2 linked regions of the Homo sapiens genome follow. The protein of the gene in region 2 purifies or fractionates together with the protein of the main gene of each other region. This does not show direct contact. Each region holds a gene or a part of one and is shown on either strand. Other genes may lie near its edges.

Region 1 (3,750 bases), on a different chromosome or scaffold from region 2:
TCATGCCAGGCACAGTGGCTCATGCCTATAATTCCAGCTACTCGGGAGGCTAAGGTAGGAGGACTGCTTGAGGCCAGAAGTACAAGATCAGTCTGGGCAACACAGTGAGATTTTGTCTCTAAAAAAATTACAGAAATCCCTCATGAATATAGATGTAGAAATTCTCAATAAAATACTAGCAAACCAAATCCAACAGTATATTAAAGAGGATTATACACTATGGCCAAATGAGATTTATCCTAGGAATGCAAGGGTAATTAAACATGAGGAAATCAATCAATGTAATGTACCACATGAATAGAATAAAGGGGGGAAAAAACCCAAATACTCATCTCAATTGAGAGAGCACCAACTCATTCTATGAGGTATCATTCTCATATCAAAGACATCACACACACACACACAAAAAACAGATCAAAATATCTTATGAATACACATGCAAAAATCCTCAACAAAATACTAGCAAACAGAATCCAACAACATATAAAAAGGATTATACTTTATGCACTATGATCAAATGGGATTTATCCCATGAATACAAAGTTGGTTTACATCTGATAATGTAATATACCATATCAAAAGAATAAGGGACAAAACCACATGATCACCTCAATAGATACAGAAAAAAGCATCTGATAAAATTCAACACCCCTTCATAATGAAAACTAAGAGAACTCCTCAACCTGATAAACAGCATTTATGGAATTCCCACAGCAGTGTATGAGAGTGCCAGTTCTTCTACATCCTTACCAATACATGGTATAGTCAGTCTTTTTTTTTTTTTTGAGATGGAGTCTCATTCTGTCGCCCAGGCTGGAGTGCATTGGCACAATCTCGGCTCATGCATCCTCCGCCTCCCAGGTTCAAGTGATTCCCCTGCCTCAGCCTCCCAAGTAGCTGGGACTACAGGCGTGTGCTACCAAGCCCAGCTAATTTTTGTATTTTAGTAGAGACGGAGTTTCACCACATTGGCCAGGATGGTTTCAATCTCTTGACCTTGTGATCCACCTGCCTCAGCCTCCCAAAGTGTTGGGATTACAGGTGTGAGCCACTACACCCAGCCTCATTTTTTTAGTTGTTTTATTATTATTCAGTCTCAAACACTTCCTTTATACATTCTAGACAGAATTTATTTATTGGATATGCAATTTGCCAATATCTTCTCCCAATCTGTGGCTCACCTTTTCTTTCTTTCCTTTTTTTTTTTTTTTTTGAGACAGGGACTCACTCTGTTGCCCAGACTGGAGTGCAGAGGCATGATCACGGCTCACTGCAACCTCAATAGCTTCTTCAAGGACTAGATATTCTCAATTCTGGTCCAATAAATAAAGTCCAATTTATCAATTTTTTTCTCTTATGTATTATGCTTTTGCAAACAGTATCTAAGACATCTTGGCCTATCCTAAAGTCACAAAGATTTCCTCCTATGTTTTCTAGTAGTCTTATAGTTTTGCATTTTACATTTAGGTCTTGGGTTCATTTTGAGTTAATTTCTAAATATGGTGCAAAGCATGGATCAAAGTTCATTATTTTATGTAAGGATATCCAATTTTTCCACCACCATTACTAAAAAAGACTATCTCTTTCTACTGAATTGCCTTTTCATCTTTGTTGAAAATCAATTGACTGTGTTAATCTATTTATGTGGTTTCTATTAAGTTTCACTGATCTATTTGTTTATCTTGATGCTAGTACCACAGTCTTAATTTCTGTAGCTTTATAGTAAATCTTAAAATCAGGTCTATGGGTCCTCCAATTCTGTTCATCTTTTACCAAGTTAGTTTGGCTAATCTAGGTCCTTTACATTTCTACATGAAATTTAGAATCAGCTTGTCAATTTCTATAAATTTTCATTCTGCTGGGATTTATTCAGATTATCTTGAATATCTAGACTAAGTTGGAGAAAACTGACATCTTAACAATACTGTCTTCCAATCCATGAAAACAGTATGTGTCCACTTACTTAGTTTAGTATCAGCAATGTTAATTTAATTTATATCAGCAATGTTTTGTATTTTTCACATACAAGTCTTCCACATCTTTAGTCAGATTTATCCCTGAGTATTTCATATTTTTGATACCATCAAATTTTAAATTTCAATTTCTGATTGTTGCTAGTACAGAGAAACACAATTGGCTTTTGCATATCCACCTGATTCCTACAACCTTGCTAAACTCACTTATCAGTTCTAGTAGCTTTTCTGTACATTCCACAGGATTTTCTATAATAGTTGATCACACAGTGTGCAAATAAAGACGGTTTTCCAAACTAGATGCTTTTTTTTTAAATGGTCTTATTATACCGGCCTTATATTCAACATTCTAGTACAGTGTTGAATAGAAGTGGTGAGAATGAATATCCTTACCTCATTCCTGATTTTAGAGGAAAAGCATTCAGACTCTTACCACTAAGCACAATTTAGCTCTAGATTTTCATAGATGCCCTGTTTTAAGCTGAGGAATTTCCATTACTAGTTTCTGAGGGTTTTTAAAATCAGGAATTAATATTCGATTTTGTCAATGCTTTCTCCACATATATGATCATACAACTTTTCTTTGTTTAATATGGTGAACAATGTTACATTGATTTTTCAAATGTTAAGCCAGCATCTTTCTTGAAATAAACCTCACTTGATCATGATGTATTCTTCACATATATATACACACACATATATACATATACAGAATATACTTTTTATATAGATGTATTTTATACTTTTAAATCCACATATATGGATTTAATTCTCTAAAATTTTTTGTAAAATCTGTGTGTATGAGGAATACTGATTTAGTTTCCTTTTCTAGTTATGTCTTTCTTTCTTTAGTTCTGGTATCAGGTTAATGTTGACCTCAAAATGAGCTGGGAAATATTCCCTCCTCTTCAATTTTCCAGAAAAGTCTTTGTAGAATTGGCATTAATTCTTCCTTAAAGATGTAGAATCCACCAGTAAAACTATCTGGGCCTAGAGTTTCCTTTTGGGGAAGGCTTATAACAGCAAAATTCCCTTTCTTTAATTGATACAGGGCTATTCAGCTATTTCTTCTTAAGTGAACTTTGATAATACTTTGTATCTTTCAACTAATTTGTCCATTTCTGCTAAGTTGCCAAATGTATGAGCATGAAGTTGTTCATAATATATATACATTTTTTGAGATGGGGGTCTCACTCTGTTGCCTAGGCTGGAGTGCAGTGGCACAATCTCAGCTCTCTACAGCCTTAACGACCCAGACTCTGAGCCATTCTCCCACGTTAGCCTCCCGAGTAGCTGGGACCACAGGCACACACCACCACACTTAGCTAATTTTTGTATTTGTAGAGACAAGGTCTCATTATGTTACCCAGGCTGGTCTTGTATGCCTGAGCTCAAGCAATCCTCCTGCTTCAGCCTCCCAAAGTGCTGGGATTACAGGCATGAGCCACTGCACTCAGCCTATTCATAATATTTCTTAACCTTTTTTTAATGTCTGTAGAATCTATAGTCACGTAACCTCTCTCACTCCCGTTTTTTTGTTTGTTTGGTTAGTTGGTTGGTTTTGTTTTTTTTTTGTTTGTTTTTGTTTTTGTTTTTTTAAGATGGAGTCTCGCTCCGTCGCTCAGGCTAGAGAGTAGTGGCATAATCTCGGCTCACTGCAACCTCCGCCTCCCGGATTCAAGCGATTCTCCTGCCTCAGCCTCTCGAGCAGCTGGGATTACAAGCGTGTGCTACCACACCCAGCTAATATTTTTTTGTATTTTTAGTAGGGACGGGG
Region 2 (3,750 bases):
TGTAACTGTGCAAGGCCCCTTGGATGTCTTTCACCAGAAGGGCATGGATGATGAAGGTGAGATCCAGTCCGATATCACCCAGTTGCTGGCAATGCTCCTTAGCCACTTTTACACACTCAGCTGCTGTAGAGAGGCTCTCCTTACTATCAAACACCTGCTTGCTAAAAGCATCCACGAACATGCCCATGGCTGATCTTGCCCAGACCACAAAGGCAGAGTAGCAGCCGCTGTCAGTGCCTGCAAAATCGATCTCAAATTCTCTTGCAGTCTCGAGAAGGCTGGTAAAGAAGACATGGCACAGCTTATGAATATAGAGTAAAGTGGCACCTTCGATGCGAAGCTGACGAATTGCAGTATGAACAGCGGCTGCCCTGTTTCTCAAAAATAGCTCACAGGCCTTCGTGCACTGGCCCAGCCGGATCAGTTGCGAAACTGCTCTGCGAGTAGCCTTCGGACCACCTCTCAGGGAACGATCTGGGGAGAGTTCGAAAACTAGCACCTCAGTGAGCTGTCGAACTCGCTCCTCCACTTTGGCCCTTAGTTCTTTTACAGGAGGTGGGCTAGGTTTATCTTCCAGGTAATGGTTCAATTTATCCAGCAGGTCAACCGCCCCTTCAAAGTCTCTCTGCGCAATGCAGACATCCAGGTCTTCAGGTAACTCCTGGATCCATTCCATGGAGAGGTCCACCTTCTCTTCCTCTACCTCAGGAACAGCTGGTTCTTCTTCTTCGTCATCCTCAAATGGGTTAGTGGCCTTGGAAGTCACTTGGGGTGGCCCTCGAGGGGCCGCTGCCTCCTCCTGCTCCCTTCGCCTTTTCTCACTGAGGGCCCTCTTGGTGTCCTCCAGCACTTCCAGCCACTCTCGTTTGATTTTAGCATTTTCGGCCTGGAAAATACGGCTCTCGGGGAACATAAGCAGCTTGAACATGTCCTTCATGGGCGGGTTGTCCTTGACATTGACTACGGCCAAACCATCTAGGGAATAGAGAGCGTTGTAGCGATACATCCCACGCCGCTGAGGCAGCCAGGTAGCCACCAACAAGCAATCGTTCATGAGAAAGCCGTGCACCCGCTGCAGTTGGGCCATGTGGTCCGCATCGTATTCCACTAGGTCCCCATTGTACACCAAGTACTGTCCCGGCGTCTCCAGCAGATGCCTGCAGCCTTCCACCTTCTCAAGCAGGGTGGTGAGAGTGCGCTGCTTTCCTTCCTCGCCTGGACCGGAGCCGTCGCGGGAGGCACCCCCGGGGGTGGAGAAAAAGCCGGCCTGGCCTCGGAGGTGGTCTCGGCCCCCCGCCCCACCGACTCCCTCCTCCCCTCCAGAGGCGGCGGCGGCTCCGGCGGCAGCAGCGGCAGGCAGCAACGTAAGCGGGATGCTCTCCAGGCTGCTTTTCTGCTCGGTCAGCAAATGGCTGAGCTGGTACATCTCGCTCTCCAGGTAGGAGATCTCGCGGGCCGTCTCTATGAACTGCCGGTAGTTCTGGTAGACGTTGCGCTTCAGGTTCTGCGCCGTCTCCTCCGCCAGCGCCTGGATGCGCTGCCGGTGCTCCTGGAGGTCCCGGTCCCCATCCGACTGCTGCGAGAGCTGCTTCACGTACAGCCGCGCCTCAAAACCCCCTGACTCCAGCTGCCGACGCAGGCGGCTCGCCCCACTGTCCGACATCGCCATCGCCATTTCTCTCCGGGTCTCACGCACTCACTGTCACTATCGGCGCCGCAGCCGCCGCGGCTGTCTAGACCCACCCAAGGCCAACCGAGCTCCTGGGCTGAGGAAGCAGGAATGGGAACGAGACGAGTACGCCTGCGCCGGGTCTGAGCGTCAGACACTGCGCCTGCGCAAGTGGGCCGAGCGCAGACATTGCGCCTGCGCAGCAATGCCATCGGTTAAAGCGCATGCGCAAGATGAGCTATTGCGGAAGTGAGGGGAGGGAGAGGCCGAGAGAAATTTCGGTACTGCGCATGAACCGAGCGTGACGTTGAGGTTTGAAATAACCGGCAAAGAGTAAAGGCTGAAACTAGCTTCCTGAAAGCTTCGTAGGGCCCGAGCCCTGTGAGCCCAGGTTCTGCGCCCACTAGGAGGTGTCATGCTGACTGCTTTTTTTAAAGCCCTAGAATCTTGGCTTCGGCGTTTGGGGTAAGCTCCGTTCTCGTTCTCAAGCGCGTTTCCGCGAACTCTCGCGGGATTGACGGGCCGTCTCGAGAGCCGGCATCTCCTAGGAGCTAGTCCTGGTCCTCGGCTAGGCGGCTTGGGGTCGCGGCGTAACTGGGGAGCCAGCCTGACGCCGGCGGACCCCGCCTGTGATCCTGGCAACGATGGATGATGACTTGATGTTGGCACTGCGGCTTCAGGAGGAGTGGAACTTGCAGGAGGCGGAGCGCGATCATGCCCAGGAGTCCCTGTCGCTAGTGGACGCGTCGTGGGAGTTGGTGGACCCCACACCGGACTTGCAGGCACTGTTTGTTCAGTTTAACGACCAATTCTTCTGGGGCCAGCTGGAGGCCGTCGAGGTGAAGTGGAGCGTGCGAATGACCCTGTGAGTTCCGAGCCCCGCTGGGGAAAGAGGCGGGACTGGCAGCTTTCCTGCAGCCCCCGGCCCTGGTTTTCTCTCCTTTCTCTAGTCCGACGGTCCCAGGGGGCGTTAAATGAGGGGAGTCTGGTTTTGGACCTGGCAATTCCTGCCTCGGCGTGTTTCTGTCTTCCTTACCTTTTCTCCCACTCGAACAATAAGAAAGCTGTGTAGACCACACCGCCACGGTTGGACTCAGGGCCGTAACAAAAAAGAGATTTTTATTTGAATCTCACTTCACTTGAAAATAACAAGTTCCTGATTTGCCTTATGATAGTGCTGTAGGACCCAGAAGGGAGAAGCAACCAAATCTGCACCTAAGAAAGTGCTGAGGACGCAGAGTAACTGCCAAAGGATGTGTGTTCTCCTCCTCTATTCCCGTTAGGAAACCCACTTTAGTTAGCTCGTGTGTTGCATTGGGGATCTTCAGTGATGCTTTTAAAACGATTCTTTTTCTACACGCTAAATTTCAGAAATCCCTATTTGAAATAATAATCTACTCCTGCACGTGAACAGGGTTAAGTTTAAGATACAGTTGTATCCCAGCATGCTTGTTTTTGAGTTGATAGAAAACAACCTACTGTCAAACAAATTAAGATATGATATTAAATTGTGTTTAAAGTACCAATTTCCTTTATACAGGCGTCTGTTATGATTTTGGAGATATGCTACTGGAGATATCTGCTTGTTAATAACACCGAACTGTAACTTGTCGGAAGGAGACTGGGAGTAGCAGAATAGGATTGCCTTTGAGCTGTTGCAGCCTAGCTAGGGCAAGGGGAGCTGCAGTTGGGCCATGTGGTCCGCATCGTATTCCACTAGGTCCCCGTTGTACACCAGGTACGGTCCTGGCGTCTCTAGCAGGTGCCTGCAGCCTTCCACCTTCTCAAGCAGGGTGGTGAGAGCACGCTGCTTTCCTTCCTTGCCCGGCGGGGATCGGAGCCATCGCGGGAGGCGCCCGCGGGGGTTGTAACTAATTAATTAGGTGAAATGCAAGTATCTGCTAACCAAGGGGGGTATACTTTCATGAAAGCCATCTGCCAACTGAGTTAGTGTGAACTGCCCAAGAATGTGTAAGGACTTGGGCATATTTGGCCAATGTAACACATTTTTATGGTGATTGTTTTCTAGGTGTGCTGGGATATGCAGCTATGAAGGGAAGGGTGGAATGTGTTCCATCCGT

What was found. The genes of interacting proteins can lie anywhere in the genome.
Region 1: the proteins of EXOC8 (region 2) and EXOC6 purify together in Homo sapiens (affinity purification with mass spectrometry; 5 studies listed by BioGRID and IntAct, with this or other methods). This does not show direct contact.

Annotation. Positions count from the first base shown.
Region 1 is NC_000010.11:92,851,471-92,855,220, reverse strand, and holds part of EXOC6 (exocyst complex component 6), read right to left. Parts: intron 1-3,750. UniProt on the Homo sapiens protein: Component of the exocyst complex involved in the docking of exocytic vesicles with fusion sites on the plasma membrane.
Region 2 is NC_000001.11:231,336,071-231,339,820, forward strand, and holds the start of EXOC8 (exocyst complex component 8), read right to left. Parts: upstream 1,783-3,750; 5' UTR 1,676-1,782; coding exon 1-1,675. Other genes in the region: DNA-dependent metalloprotease SPRTN, read left to right, coding at 2,314-2,534, 3,699-3,750. UniProt on the Homo sapiens protein: Component of the exocyst complex involved in the docking of exocytic vesicles with fusion sites on the plasma membrane.